Linked DNA regions of Homo sapiens: region 2 is linked to region 1. Evidence: fine-mapped expression QTL. Tissue or cell type: coronary artery. Region 1 holds a variant in brackets; the other region holds the start of a gene. All regions are shown on one strand. Distances are from middle to middle.

Evidence for each region. PIP is the estimated chance that this variant, and not a neighbour inherited with it, causes the effect.
Region 2: it holds the start of ALG11, and the variant in region 1 is fine-mapped to the expression of ALG11 in coronary artery (GTEx, PIP 0.91).

The regions. Positions count from the first base shown.
Region 1 is chr13:51,968,971-51,977,151 of GRCh38, reverse strand. ATP7B (ATPase copper transporting beta) reads left to right here. Exons shown (of 21, transcript NM_000053.4): 2 at 1,984-3,217; 3 at 6,403-6,660. Among named protein-coding and RNA genes, the nearest start is that of ATP7B, 38 kb to the left of the region's middle. The variant G/ATTGAG (reference allele first, on the strand shown) is at 4,741.
Region 2 is chr13:52,009,066-52,017,246 of GRCh38, reverse strand. ALG11 (ALG11 alpha-1,2-mannosyltransferase) reads right to left here and starts at 4,849. Exons shown (of 4, transcript NM_001004127.3): 1 at 4,785-4,849. The coding sequence starts at 4,828. ATP7B (ATPase copper transporting beta) reads left to right here and starts at 5,797. Exons shown (of 21, transcript NM_000053.4): 1 at 5,797-5,960. The coding sequence starts at 5,910. RefSeq lists enhancers at 4,591-4,680, 4,731-4,860 and silencers at 4,981-5,080, 5,091-5,200, 5,251-5,590.

The DNA of each region.
Region 1 (8,181 bases):
TTGTTTTGTCTCCCAGGCTAGAGTACAGTGGTGCAATCATAGCTCACTGTAACCTTGAACTCCTGGGCTCAAGCAGTCCTCCTGCCTCGGCCTCCCAAAGCATTGAGATTACAATGAGCCACTGTCTGGCTATGTTGATTTATTGTTGAAGAAATAAAACTATTTTTTATAAATTTAGTGTAGCCTAAGTTTACAGTGTTTATAAAATCGACAGTAGTGCAGTGTCCTAAGTCTTCACATCTACTCAACACTCATTCACCGACTCACCCAGAGCAACTTCCAGTCCTGCAAGCTCCATTCATGATAAGTGCCCCATACAGGTGCACCATTTTTTAATCTTTTATATTGTGTTTTTACTGTACCTTTTCTATGTTCAGATATGTTTAGATACACAAGTACTTACCATTGTGTTACAATTGCCTACAGTATTCAGTACAGTAACATGCTGTACAGGTGTGTGGCCTAGGAGCAACAGGCTACACCATACAGCTCAGGTGTTTGGTAGGCTACATCAGCTAGGTGTGTGTAAGTGACTCTATGATGGTCACACAACGATGAAGTCACAATGATGACTCATTTCTCAGAATGTATCACCATCCTTAACATCATTAAACATTCATGTATTTACTGGATTCAGCAATATCTTTTGAACTGCTGTCCCCCAAATTACTTAATTATTCCCTTTTTTCTCTTAGGAAATGCTACAGTGAATATTTAAAATTCTATGTAATTATTAATCCCAAACCTTTGTGGATATAGAAATCAACATTTATATAGTCTGCATTTTACAAGTTATTTAAACATTTGTGTTGTTAAGCTGCTCAAAAGCCGGTTGGCAAGGTCTGCATTTTATGCACAGGAAAAAGGAGAAGATCATTCCATGTAAAGGAGATTCATCTGAAGACAAGCAGGATTGTGTACAAGTAGAGAGAAATGTGCTTTTTTATGATGTATCATGTATAAAGGCCTGTTCCCAAATTTCTGAAGCACATGGAAGTTCTGGTGTAAAAAGTATATCTAGTTAAGACAGCTGTAGGCTGGGAGCCTGTGAAAGGAAGATTTTGCTTGTTAATAGAATGACTGAGACTACATCATCCTGTGTAGAAACCAGGGAATAACACTTGTACTGTGTTGTGTTAAGAAAACAGGTTCTTTAATTAAGTGATGTACCTGAAATTTCAGGTAATGACTACAGCTCTCCTGAACACCCAGGAGGGCGGTGACACTGAGTCACAGGCAGAACTATGAAATTCCTTGTGAAACTCAACTTTCTGTTCTTCCAGCCTTTCCCCTCCCGCCCCTCGGCTCAGCCACAGGTGCTCATTAAACCTCGCCCAGGGAGCATACCTCCAAAGCTTTTTCACAGGCATGTGGCCCACCTTTGGATTCCGACCCTATGGTCCTGGGAAGTCTGCATTTGGAGCGTGTACCTGAAGGGTGTTAAGCACATTTAACCTCTGCTAAGATAATCAGACAGACACCCCTAGAAAGAGATATAGAAGTAAGGTGTTGACTATTCTGGGGTTTGTATTTCAGCAGGACCCCCAAAGTTTGAGCTGAAAGGACTAAGTTCTGTGGGGAGGTATCAGCCAGAGGTGGGGACCTCTTTTGGGATACCTGTGCCTTCCCACCGTGAGCCGCTGTGCCCTCTGCCTCTGCTGCAGGCCAGCCGTGCTGCATTCCATATGTAAAGCTGTGTCGTGCTTTCCTTCTTTCCCTCAGAATCCTCCACGTCTGTTGTGTGAGAACGACATTTCACTAAGGAGGACAGACAGTTAGCTTCTGTCAGAGAAGAATGTCAGAGCTCTTTCATTTTGTAGATGCTGCCTTTAGCTTGCTTTCTGTGTATGTTATGTTCTTCTACCCTTGGGATATTTTGACACCAGTGGCATTGTTTTCCATTTTCTCAGTGCCAGAGAAGCTGGGATGTTGTAGAAAATATTTGGTTTCAAGGTTAAAAAATGTTATTTCTTTTCTTTTTAGATCTTATCTAAGCTTTCTTTGCCTACCCGTGCCTGGGAACCAGCAATGAAGAAGAGTTTTGCTTTTGACAATGTTGGCTATGAAGGTGGTCTGGATGGCCTGGGCCCTTCTTCTCAGGTGGCCACCAGCACAGTCAGGATCTTGGGCATGACTTGCCAGTCATGTGTGAAGTCCATTGAGGACAGGATTTCCAATTTGAAAGGCATCATCAGCATGAAGGTTTCCCTGGAACAAGGCAGTGCCACTGTGAAATATGTGCCATCGGTTGTGTGCCTGCAACAGGTTTGCCATCAAATTGGGGACATGGGCTTCGAGGCCAGCATTGCAGAAGGAAAGGCAGCCTCCTGGCCCTCAAGGTCCTTGCCTGCCCAGGAGGCTGTGGTCAAGCTCCGGGTGGAGGGCATGACCTGCCAGTCCTGTGTCAGCTCCATTGAAGGCAAGGTCCGGAAACTGCAAGGAGTAGTGAGAGTCAAAGTCTCACTCAGCAACCAAGAGGCCGTCATCACTTATCAGCCTTATCTCATTCAGCCCGAAGACCTCAGGGACCATGTAAATGACATGGGATTTGAAGCTGCCATCAAGAGCAAAGTGGCTCCCTTAAGCCTGGGACCAATTGATATTGAGCGGTTACAAAGCACTAACCCAAAGAGACCTTTATCTTCTGCTAACCAGAATTTTAATAATTCTGAGACCTTGGGGCACCAAGGAAGCCATGTGGTCACCCTCCAACTGAGAATAGATGGAATGCATTGTAAGTCTTGCGTCTTGAATATTGAAGAAAATATTGGCCAGCTCCTAGGGGTTCAAAGTATTCAAGTGTCCTTGGAGAACAAAACTGCCCAAGTAAAGTATGACCCTTCTTGTACCAGCCCAGTGGCTCTGCAGAGGGCTATCGAGGCACTTCCACCTGGGAATTTTAAAGTTTCTCTTCCTGATGGAGCCGAAGGGAGTGGGACAGATCACAGGTCTTCCAGTTCTCATTCCCCTGGCTCCCCACCGAGAAACCAGGTCCAGGGCACATGCAGTACCACTCTGATTGCCATTGCCGGCATGACCTGTGCATCCTGTGTCCATTCCATTGAAGGCATGATCTCCCAACTGGAAGGGGTGCAGCAAATATCGGTGTCTTTGGCCGAAGGGACTGCAACAGTTCTTTATAATCCCTCTGTAATTAGCCCAGAAGAACTCAGAGCTGCTATAGAAGACATGGGATTTGAGGCTTCAGTCGTTTCTGGTACGTAGTGTGTTTGAGGCATGTCCTGAGCTTGTCTCCTTTTCTCTTTGTGTCTTATAGCTCCTGGATGGTGGTATAGGTGAGCCCTGCTCCCTGCCTCCCATGTCAACAGTGGAACAAAATCCTGCAAACTTTCCTTGCATGTTAAATTTGTTAAGATAGAGGAAATATAATCTCCAAGTGTCTAGATTTTGCTTTTCATGTAGTTGGGATTTTGTATTAGTCTGTTTTGTGTTGCTTATAACAGAATGGCTGAATTTGGGTAATTTATAAAGATATGGAATTTGTTTCTTATAGTTACTGAGAAGTCTAAGGTTGAGGGCCACATCTGGTGAGAGCCTTCTGCCAGTGGGGACTCCGGTGCCACAGGGCATCACATGGCAGGGGTGCTGAGCATGCTCACGTGGTTGCTTAGGTGGCTCTTCCTCTTTTTAGAAAGCCTCGATGCCACACCTGTGATAACCCATTAATCCATGAGTGGATTCCATTCATGAGGGTAGAACCCTCATGATCCAGTCACTTCTTAAAGCCCTCACCTTTTAACACTGCCACATTGGGGATTATGTTTCCAACACATGAAATTTGGGGGACACAGTCAAACCATGGCTGACTTGAATGCGAACCTCCTTGGATTTGGGCTTCTTTTCTGGAGAGAATTCTGATTCTGTATCCTGAAATAGAGCACTGTGGGACCATCCAGGCCCTTTTCTTACCAAGAGAACTATTATCACCTTCTCAAAAGATTTTACTGCTAAACAACAGAACCTTAGTCTCATCACCTAGAGACCATGCTGGTAAAAATGAGAGTTAAGGAAAGGATTTATAAATGATTTTTTTCTCCCTGTTTGATGAATATAAGAGAAGAGGTAAAGGTGAGGGAGCCACCAGGCTTTTATATTTTTTAATTAAAAAATTTTTTAATTTTTTTAGGGACACGGTCTTGCCCTGTTGTCCAAGATGGAGGATAGTGACATGATCATAGGTCACTGCATCCTTGAACCTTTGGGCTCAGGTGATCCTCGCACCTCAGCCTCCTGAGTAGCTGGGACTACAGGTGTGCACCACCACACCGGGCTCATTTTTTATTTTTATTTTTTTGTAGAGACGGAGTGTTGCTGTGTTTCCCAGGCTGGTCTTGAACTCTTGGCCTCTAGCAATCCTCCCGCCTCAGCCTCCCAAAGTGCTGGGATTGCAGGCGTGAGCCACTATGCTCAGCCACCATCATGGGTTTTAATCAGAGGAAGCACGAAGTCAGATTATATTTTAGAAGACTGGTGTGGTGTCACAGTACAGTGTCCATGGAGGCAATGAGACCACGTAGGAGGCCGGGTGAGAAAGAGGTGGGTTTGAAAGACATTCAGGAGGGCAGCTCCACCAAGCTTGGGGTCACCAAGAGGGGTGTGTGATGGGGAGGGCCATGGAGGAAAGGGGTAACTGGGATGAGCCTTTAGCTGAGATGCTGGAGGACAGTGGGATAGAAGGGCCTTGAATTTTGAGGGAGAGTGTGGGGCCGGAAATGCAGA[G/ATTGAG]TGTGGGAAGATGACAGAGACCTAGAAAGAGTGATTGTGAGATGGGAAAGAATTAGAGGGAGGAGGAGGGGTCTCCTAGTCACCCTGGACATAATGCGAGCCGCAGAGGCCAAGGTCTGAATCGTATCTTCGCGGGTTAACTAGGGGAGGCCATTGGAGGCCTCGGCAGCTGCTTCAGGACCCTGGGAAGGTGGGAGCCCAGCTTGGCTGCTGGTAAGGGTGGAGACCACTAGTAGCTTAGATTAGGGATAAAGAGGATGATAGGTGAGTGGAGATGGTTGAGAGAAATGCTGAAGATAAGGAGGGAAGGGGCACATGTTGTGAGGGGCAGCTGTGTGGGTGGTGTGTTGTAACCGATTAGGTCCCAGACATGGGCCCTGCCCGTGCGTGTCTCTGTGGACTGGACCAGGACATGGCTGGCTTCCTCAGCCTTTTGGCTGGAGCTCGGTACTGTAGGGAGCAGCGGGCCCAACACTAAGAAGAGCTGCTTTCAGTGGCGTGGGCAAGCCCACTGGCAGCTCAGTGCTCAGGGATGGCTGAACTTTGGTTTCCCACATCATTTCCTGTGGTCACTGAGATAAAGTTTGTGTCCTTGAAAAGTTCACTCAGCTGTGAGTCTTTGCTGCCTCCCCTCTGTGCCCACAGCACACACCTACTGCTGAAGGGAGTGGGCATTCATGTGGAGTGGCCTGGCCCCATTTTGTGCTTTGTCTTTTGTATCAAGTTTCAGGAAGGAGTTTCTTTAAAACAAAAATCAATAAGGAAAACACAATAGAACAGTAAATCCTGTACGCAATAGGTAAGAAATATAGTATAAGGTAAACATCTGCCTGTTTTTGTGTGATGTTTAAAGTCTTTCAACCGTGCAATCAGGTTATTAGTGGTAAAAAGAAATTAGCACTGAACTTACATATTACAGAATAATTGGATTTGATTAAATAAACCTAGAAAGAAAAGAATAGTGATTTTTTTAATTGGGCAGGATTATGAGAATTTTATTTAGCCGAAGAGGTATTTAGGGTATCAGACTTAGCAAATAAAAATATAGGACATCTACTTAAATTTTAATTTTTCATAAACAATGAATGGTTTTTTAGTATAAACATGTCCAGCTCAATATTCATGACATATGTATAGTAAAAATTATTTGTTGTTTGTCTGAGAATCAAATTTAACTGGATGTCCTGTATTTTACCTGGCAACTTTAATTTGGAATAAACCATTAGTGTGCCAGTTTGTATTTGAAGAGCCCTTCTTGATTGATTAGGAGCTCCTTGAGGACAGCCTTGCGGCCAGCGTGATTTGTTTCTCCTTGGACTCAATAGCACCCCGCATGCAGTAAGTATTCCTGAAGGAAATGAAAGATAAGGTGAAGTTACGGGGTAGCTCAGTGGAAGGATTTAATATAGAGAACTATTTACAAAGGTATTAGAGAGCTGGAAATCCAAATAGGCAATGGGAAGAACCCCAGAGATTAACAACAGCAGGGAGCTCTGTCCTCCAGGATGGCTGAGGGACAAGGTAGTTACTGGAGCCCAGGGGCTGAGGCTGCTCGGTGGGAGCCGGGACAATGAACCCTCACCAAGAGCCCTGAAACCTCTTGTTCTGAAAAACATATTATTTGCTCTTCTAATTTGAATATTTTCTGACATTTTATCCTAGAAAGCTGTTCTACTAACCCTCTTGGAAACCACAGTGCTGGGAATTCCATGGTGCAAACTACAGATGGTACACCTACATCTGTGCAGGAAGTGGCTCCCCACACTGGGAGGCTCCCTGCAAACCATGCCCCGGACATCTTGGCAAAGTCCCCACAATCAACCAGAGCAGTGGCACCGCAGAAGTGCTTCTTACAGATCAAAGGCATGACCTGTGCATCCTGTGTGTCTAACATAGAAAGGAATCTGCAGAAAGAAGCTGGTAAGAGATGAACGCCCATGTTGAACTTAGGAATGCTGCGTATAGACCTCGTATTCTCCCTTCAGAATACCCAGCAACTGTGTTTATCAGTAGCCCTGATAACCAGGTAGCAAGTTCATTATATAGCATAAATGTTTGTCTAATGTCCTTGTATAACTGGCATTGTGTTCTTTAAGAAGTATTTAGTTTGAGATAAAATATATCTCTGAGTAAGTTAGCCATTGAAAATCCAGTTTAAAGGTCATAGTACCTTTTGTGGATAGACTTCTCAGTTAGGTTGTACTAGTATTATTCCATATTTTGTTCCCTCCCATCCCATCAACCCCTTACTATAAAATGAATAAATAACCTGCATTTTGTATAGAAGTTCCAATTTCAAATATTCTTTCTTGTTGTTCCTGTAAACCAGAGAGTGTTTGTAGGAACAACAGGACAGAAATATGTGGAAATGTCAAAGTTTTGTCCTCCAGAATGCATTTCCAATACTTTTAAACCTGAAAGTACAATAAAATTCGGATCCATTTATTTGTTTGGAAAATCTCTTAACCATGACTCTACCTTGCCACCAGAATCACTTTCTCTTTTCTTACCCCAGTGATGTGTCTTTTTACTTGAACTCCCTGGCCCTTAGAATCAGCCCTGAATTCAGATGACATGTTTTTCCAGCCTCTTGTTCACTATGCATTATAGCTTCCTGCAGCTCTAGAGTGACTGTTAGCAGATGGAGGTGTTAATAGGAGATCCCTTGTTATCCATGGTCTGACTGCTCATAAAATTAGCCTATAATCTCCTATAGCCTATGTTTCTGTTCCTGACTTGAATCCTCATTTTTATCCTATGTGGCATCCTTTCTGAAGCACTTCCTTCCTTTCATTTATTTGAACGAGGCTTTTTTTCCCATGTAAAACTAACACAATAGTGTTAGCAAGATTGTGGGATTTCTTTTTCATACCTGAAAGTCATTAGAAACTATAAAAGAGTAAGGAAAACCACTTTTGAAAATTCTTTATTTTTTCCTTGTATGAAAGTATCTGGAGAAAAGGAGAAAAAAAAAAAAGGATATCCTTCCGGTAACAGCAGTCAATAACTGCAGACCACATTCCTTATTTCATTGGTGTCTTCTAAAGCCTGAGTGAGAATGTGTCCATGGGCAGGCAGCATGAGCATCACCTGGGAGCTGGATGGACCTGCAGACTCTCAAACCTCATCCTAGACCGACTAGTCAGAAGCTCTATTTTAACAAGGTCCTCGGGTGATTCATATGTCCATTAAAGTTTGAGAAGCATTGTTCTTCTAGAATAGTGGTTGTCAGACTTCCCTGTACATTAGGATCACCTGGGGAGCTTTTTTTTTTTAAAAAAAAATGATGCCTTGGGAGGCCAAGGCGAGCGGATCACAAGGTCAGGAGTTCAAGACCAGCTTGACCAACATGGTGAAACCCCATCTCTACTAAAAATACAAAAATTAGCTGGGCATGGTGGCACGCACCTGTAACCCCAGCTACTCAGGAGGCTGAGGCAG
Region 2 (8,181 bases), 40 kb before region 1:
TGTAAAATCAAAAGTAAGCTAGTTACTTCCCAGATACAATGGGAGTACAGGTATTGGGTAAGTACAGCTGTTCCAAATGGGAGAAATTGGCCAAAACAAGGGGGTTACAGGGCCCATGCAAGTCCAAAATCCAGTGGGGCAGTCAAATTTTTAAAGCTCCAAAATGACCTCCTTTGACTCCAGGTCTCACATCCAGGTCATGCTTAAGCAAGAGGTGGGTTCCCATGGTCTTGAGCAGCTCTGCCCCTGTAGATTTGCAGGGTACAGCCTCCCTCCTGGCTGCTTTCATGGGCCGGCGTTGAGTGTCTGAGGTTTTTCCAGGCACACGGTGCAAGCTGTCAGTGGATCTACCACTCTGGGGTATGGAGGACGGTGGCCCTCTTCTCGCAGCTCCACTAGGCAGTGCCCCAGTAGGGACTCTGTGTGGGGGCTCCAACCCCACATTTCCCTTCTGCACTGCCCTGGCAGAGGTTCTCCATGAGGGCCCTGCCCCGGTGGCAAACTTTTGCCTGGGCATCCAGGCGTTTCTATACATCTTCTGCAATCTAGGTAGAGGTTCCCAAATTTCCATTCTTGACTTCTGTGCACCCGCAGGCTCAACACCATGTGAAGCTACCATGGCTTGGGGCTTTCACCCTCTGAAGCCACAGCACTAGCTCTGCATTGGCCCCTTTCAGCCACGGCTGGAGCAGCTGGGACACAGGGTACCAAGTCCCTAGGCTGCACACAGCACAGGGCCCCTGCACCTGGCCCACAAAACCACTTTTTCCTCCTGGGCCTCCAGGCCTGCCATGAGAGAGGCTGCCATGAAGGTCTCCGACATTGCCTGGAGACATTTTCCCCCATGGTCTTCAGGATTAACATTAGGCTCCTTGCTACTTTTGAAAATTTCTGCAGCCAGCTTGAATTTCTCCTAAAAAAATGGGTCTTTCTTTTCTACTGCATTGTCAGGCTGCAAATTTTCTGAACTTTTATGCTCTGTTCCGCTTTTAAAATGGAATGCTTTTAAGAGCACCCAAGTCACTTCTTGAATTCTTTGCTGCTTAGAAATTTCTTACACCAGATACCCTAAATCATCTCTTTCAAGTTCAAAGTTCCACAAATCTCTAGGGCAGGGGCAAAATGCCTCTAGTACCTTTGCTAAAACATAAGAGGAGTCACCTTTCTCCAGTTCCCAACAAGTTCTTCATCTCCATCTGAGACCACCTCAGCCTGGATTTCGTTGTCCATATCACTATCCGCATTTTGTTCAAAGCCATTCAACAAGTCTCTAGGATGTTCCAAACTTTCCCACATTTTCCTGGCTTCTTCTGAGCCCTCCAAACTGTTCCAGCCTCTGCCTGTTGCCCAGTTCCAAAGTCGCTTCCACATTTTTGGGTATCTCTTCAGCAGCACCCCACTCTACTGGTACTAATTTATGGTACCAAGTTCATTTTCACGCTGCTGATAAAGACATACTCGAAACTGGGAACAAAAATAGGTTTAATTGGATTTACAGTTCCACATGGCTATGAGGCCTCAGAATCATGGCGGGAGGCATAAGGCACTTCTTACATGGTGGCAGCAAGAGAAAAATCAGAAAGAAGCAAAAGCAGAAACCCCTGATAAACCCCATCAGATCTCGTGAACTTACTCACTATCACGAGAATAGCATGGGAAAGATTGGCCCCCATGATTCAATTACCTCCCCCTGGATCCCTCCCACAACATGTGGGCATTCTGGGAGATAAAATTCAACTTGAGGTTTGGGTGGGGTCACGGCCAAACCATATCACATAGTTTTCACTGCCCACATGAAAACATACAAATTCATCAGAAAAGTAAATTTTGCTTTTTTTAGATACAGGGTCTCACTCTGTCACCCAGGCTGAAGTGCAGTGGTGCAATCATAGCAATCACTGCAGCCCCAAACTCCTTGGCTCAAGCGATCCTCCTGCCTCAGACTCCTGAGAAGCTGGAACTACAGGTGCATGCCACCACACCCAGCTAATTAAAAAAATGTTTTTTGTAGAAATAGGGTTTTGCTATGTTGCCCAGGCTGGTCTCAAACTCTTGGCCTCAAGTAATCCTCCTGCCTTGGCCTTCCAAAGCATTGAGATTACAGGCATGAGCTGCTGCACCTGGCCAGAAGTAAATATTTTATTGATATTTAGTTTTGACATAAAGTTCTCATGTGGGATTTCCTATTGTGAACAAATCCTCATTTGTTCCTATTGTGAACAAATCTCATGTGGGATTTCCTACTGTGTACTTGAAGAGGTATTTGACTCTATTTGAAATCCCACATGAGCACTTTATTTCAAAGCTGAAATAATTGGTCTAAAATAATTTGGTCTTTATATTCTTTATACACCTTTATACTCTTAAAAATTTTACTGAGGATACAATAGAGCTTTTGTTTACATCAGAGTTTCTCATCCTTGACACTACTGACATTTTGGACCAAATAATTATTTGTTGCGGAGGTTGTCCTATGTATTATATTTAGTAGCATCTTTGGTCTTGACCCACTTAGATGCCAGTAGCACCCTCCCAATCAAAATTATCAGTTGGGCATGGTGGCTCATGCCTGTAATCCCAACATTTTGGGAGGCTGAGGTGGGAGGATTGCTTGAGCCCAGGAGTTCAAGGCTGTAGTAAGCTATGATCATGCCACTGCACTCCAGCCTGGGCAACAGAGCAAGACTCTTATCTCTAAAAAAAAAATTAAAAAAAAAAAGCCCTCCAGATATTGCCAAATGCCAAATGTCTTGCGAAGGGCAAAAATCACCCCTGGTTGAGAACCAGTGGTTTACACTGCTTATATCTACCAATATTTAGCATATTAGAAATGAAAACTAAAGAACTTTAAACTTTTTATGAATTCATTTGAAAATAAAAATTCTTTCATAACACATTAACATATTTTTATTAAAAAACTATCTTTTCCAAACCAAAAAAAGAAATTTAGCAAGAAGGGTGCCAATGATTTACACTTTTTGCAAATCTTTTTAATGTCTGGCTTAACGTGAAACCAGATAGTGGCTCCTCCTTTCTGTTTCTGCATTCAATCTAGTGATATGTTGTTTTTGTTGAAGTATATGAAGAAAATTCAGGCTAACTTAGACATGTAGTAGGAAAAGGGAGTATATTTTAATATATATTGATCTTATGTTTAAAATATATTTAACTTTTCAGCTAGTTACAGATATTCTTCTCTGATGCTAGACCACATTTGACAAGTTATGCAGTTTCTTAATGTCAGTTGCAATACAGACTCTGAAACCCTATCAATGACCTTTTCACACTGTTAATTAAAATCCACTATCACTTAGTTTTATCCGCTATCACTTTTGCACTTATCAACATAGTAAAATAGGCAAATATTACATTAATGTTATTATAAAAACAGATTTGTTGAGGATCCATTGAAGGGCCTTGGGACCTGCATGGTCCATGGAGCACAATTTGAGAACCACTGCCTTAAAGGATGAACAGAGTCTGACAAAAGTGGTAAGATTTATCATTTATTTAACATTTGGAATATATGAATTCATAAAAGCAACACTACAGAGGACAGTTTGCTTTCTCAGGACACTCTTTCAAAAGCTTATTTAAAATGCAGCTGACCCATATAATGTAAAGGTTTTTCTGGCAATTCCTTCAAATAATTTAGGTGGGAAAATTCATGTGACAAGCTTTTCAAACTGAACTATTAAACATTTAACTTAAAAGCTGCATAATAACTAAAGTTAAACCTGTCCTTTAAGTCTGGTTAGTGAGTTTATTTAAACATTATAATGTAAAGCACTGAGGAATATTACGTATGACAGGGAAGAACCAAAAGGCTCTGATAACAGACTTTCTCATTCAAAATGTTTAAAGTAATGATTACAGAATTTGAAGTAGAGTGGACAAAAACGAAGAAGAAATGCCTGAACTTTTGAAAGAATTAGGTATATACTGCTATTCAGGAAGCTATGGTGTTAATTATAAATTTTCAGCCTGAACAAAAATATGTAGGTGGTAAAAAAACTAGGTAGGTAGAATATACTAGGCCTTCTGTTTTATTAGTGGAGGGCAAGGCATTTAAAATACAGTAGTACTACAACAACAAAGGTGGAAAAAAGCCTGGGAGTTTTTTCACCAAAATGTTAACAGTGGCTATCTCCGGATGGTAGCATTCCTGGGGTTTTTTCCTTTTACTTATCTATTTTCTAATTTTTCTAGAAGAAACAGCATATACACGTAATACAAATAAAATAATATTTTATGTAACTTCTTACATCATAAAAATTAAAGTAACAGATTATCAAAAAGCAGAGGATTCAACATAAGCTTTATATTTAAGTGACGTGTTAACAATGGCAGTTTTGGTGAGTTTAAGAGTAGAAACTAAGATGAGAAGGAAGATCCGGTTTCTTCTTTACCGAAAAGAGACATGATAGATTGGAAAATGTCTCGTGGCTCAATCGTAAAGAAAAATAAGGAATGAATATGAATAATTTATGACAGACTAACTGGAGTGTGAAAGGGAAAAAAAAAGCTGAAGCAGGGAAGGGAACTCGACCCCTCGGCCAACAGTGAAGCAGAAGAAAACGCGGTAAATTGAGTCTTTAAGACCTAGTCTATTCCAGTCTATATAGAAGACCCCCAAGAAAAAGAAAGACTGCTCATTGGCCTGAGAAATTACCTTAGATTCATGACAAGGAAGGCCATTTGCCCGCAAAATTTAGCTACACTGGACGGGCAAGTACCCCTACAGAAGAGAAAACGTCTGTGAGCCCACACGACCGGCTGCTCACCTCAACAACTTGCACAGGCACCAGCTCCTTTCGCCGGCCGCCATCTTCCGCCGACCCCCGAACTCAGGAAACGCTTCACTTTCCTTTTCCCTATTGGCTCCTGAGAAAGCAAGCCGTGCTCGCCCCGCCCCCACGGGCCAATTGTGCGTTACTATTGGTTACTGGTAGCCGCTTCCCACGGCCTTCCAGCCAATAGAATATGCCGAGGCGTAGACTAGTGTTCGGCGTGGCGCACACGGCTCCCGCCCCCGTGGGCGGGACAGCAGTGGGGGGTTGGGCTGAGGAGGGCGTGGCCTGTGATTGACAGCCGTCGCTCCCTCCCTCGGCCACCTCCCCCACTAGAAGCCCCCGCCTGGGCGCCTGCGCCCCCGTTCCCGGCCCAAAGCCCGCCGCCCGTTGGAGGCCATTGGCTGGCCTTTGCGCACAGCGGATCGATTTTCCAGGTGCGGAGTTCACTCTTGCCGCGGTTGCTTCCTTTGGGACCCACGGCGTCCGGCAGCCAGGCGCAGAGTCCGAGGAGGGGGCAGCGCAGAGCGGACCCGACGCGGCGCCGCCGGGCACCTTCCCCGCAGGCGGTGGGTGAGCCCTGGGAGCTGAGTCTGCGGCCCGGCTCTGCGCAGCTCACCTGCCCTCCCGCTCCCGCACACGCGTGAGATCCCAGTACAGTGTCGGAGCGCACCAGCGCGAGGTGGCCGAGACCGCGGAGGAGGACAGGCCTCCGCCCTGCGGCGCCGGCACGGCAGAGGACATTGTGGCACTGGCACGGCAGAGAACACTGTGGCACCGGCGGGGCCGGCAGTTCCAGGGTGGGCACTCCCAGCCACCTGGGGAGTGGGCGAGGGTCCGAGGCCCACTCTCCCCTCACGCTCTCATCCCCGTGCCCCCAGGTCGGGAGGACGGCGGCGCGCAACTTTGAATCATCCGTGTGAAGAGGGCTGCGGCTTCCCCGGTCCCAAATGAAGGGGCGGTTCCCGGACCCCTGTTTGCTTTAGAGCCGAGCCGCGCCGATGCCCTCACACTCTGCGCCTCCTCTCCCGGGACTTTAACACCCCGCTCTCCTCCACCGACCAGGTGACCTTTTGCTCTGAGCCAGATCAGAGAAGAATTCGGTGTCCGTGCGGGACGATGCCTGAGCAGGAGAGACAGATCACAGCCAGAGAAGGGGCCAGTCGGAAAGTGAGTTTTGTTCCCCCGCGTCCGCGCAGCGTGCTCACTCCCACCAGGAGGATTTTCCTCCCCGCGTTCGGCGCTTACTCGCCCCCAGGGGGTGCGCAGGGAAGGCCGAGCCAGACCCCAGCTCCAGGGATGTCTTGGCGTGGGAGAAAAGGACCCTTTAGAAAAAGTGTGCCGTCAACTGATGTTTGGGAGCAATGGAAAACCCCGCACCTCAAAATTCATCTTTATGCTTTTAAGGGGTCTGATGCTGGAGAGATAAAGTGAGCGTCGAGTTGCTGTGCTAGAGCCCTAATGGCTCAAAACGATGAAGTTAGTTACCTGGAGAAGTTACTCAGAGCCTGGTGCTTGGACCAGATATGGTATATCGAGGTCCTGGAACTTTTATAACTGTTTTAAATTCATTTTAATTGTACAAGTAATACATTAAGACAGTCTTTTAAAAATGGAAACAGCACAGAAATATTTTGCACAAAAAGCAGATCTATTTTTCAGTCTTTTTCTATTCACGTACATATGTCTTCATTCGGCAAATATTTATTGAGAACTTTCTATGTTTCAGGCACACAGTGTTGAGTTGATACAGTGGTTAACAAGACATGTATCTATATGTAATATGCACACATTCAGAGAAATCTTTAGGTTTCATTTGTATGAGGTGTTAAAATTTTTGTTTTACCTAAATGAGATCACTGTATGTGCATTCTCTTTTTTCAGTTTAACGATATATCTTAGAGATTGTTTCACTAACTGTCTAATTCAGTGCAACCTCTGCACAGTTTGGACGCATCATAGTTTATTCATGGTTTCCTAGTGGTGGACGTTCTGTTTGCTACTTTTTTTCTCTCTCTCTTGCAAGTGAACATCTTTGTACATGATTTTTAATGCTGACACTATTTCTTTAGGATAGATACTTAGGCCTGGATTGCTGGACAGAACAGTAGGCTGTTTCTTTTCCACAGATTTCTGAAACTAATTCACTGACGTTGCTGGGTGCCCTTTAGTAGTGAATTCATCTAGGCTCCGGTGATACAGAAATGAAAACTAACGGATTAGTGGACAGACAGAGAGAGGCTGGTTAGTAGGTGGTTTGTAGGGTATGATGACTATGCATTTGATAGGAGTATGAAGAAATGTTGGGAGGGGTGGCTTGTACAGAGGAGATTTCAACTTCCTACAGTGTCCCCACCTAGAGAAAGAAATCATTATCCTTCCAAATCAAGCTCAAGACCTGCCACCTCCTTGAAACGTTCTGTAACTGCTCCTGCCCATGTTGACCTGTCTTCTGGAATCCTCTGATAATAGCGTTGACCAGCGTTATTGAGCTTACTGTGTGCTGGGCATTGTGTTAGGCACTCATATCCCTCTATGTGCACTCTCGCGTTTAATCCTCACAAAAACCCTTTGATGTAGGTATTATATCTTGTTATCAACATTTATTCAACAAATTTTTTTGTGTGTACTATGTGCTCAAACACATAGTACTCAAAGTTTTAGACACTGGGGATTTAGGTAGGACCGAGACCTTGCCCTCATGAATTTACATCCTAGTTGGAGATAGGAAAAAAAAAGGGATAAACAAATGTATAGCGTAGGAGTTAAGGGAAAACTTTTGTGCCCCGTGAAGCGTCACTGAAAAATCAACTGACAAATGGCAGATTAATAGGAGAGAAGGCATACACATTTACTAACGTGCCGTGAGAGTCTTACAACATAAGATCTCAAAGGAAGGCAAGGTGGTTGCCACAATTATACTATCCTGAGGTTACAGAAAGTGTGGGGGCTCTAAGCTTGGCCAAAAACAGGTTATGGTTGTAAATCAGGTTATAGGAGGGAGAGAAGAGGAGACCTGGCTAGCAAAGGTGGTCTTATGTAGATGAAACCTCACAGGTAGCAGCCCTCAGGGAGAAGAAATGTTTCAGACCTTGAAGGTGCCAAATTCAGCTAATCTCACCCAGATCCAGACAAGGAAGGGCCCTCTGAGAAAAACTGGCTGCGTCAATGGAGGTTCTCAACAGATGCTCATCTCCCTCACAGTAGGACTACTTTTGTCTGTAGGCCCTCTGAACGGCCATCTCAAAATATTTCCAATAAGTCTGTTTTGAGGTGAAATGTTTTAGTTTCCTTCAATAGCTTTATTTCAGGTACTAGTAAGTACTATGAAGAAAATAAAGCAGTTTGGGTCCAGGAGTTCAAGACCAGCCTGGCAGCATATCAAGACATC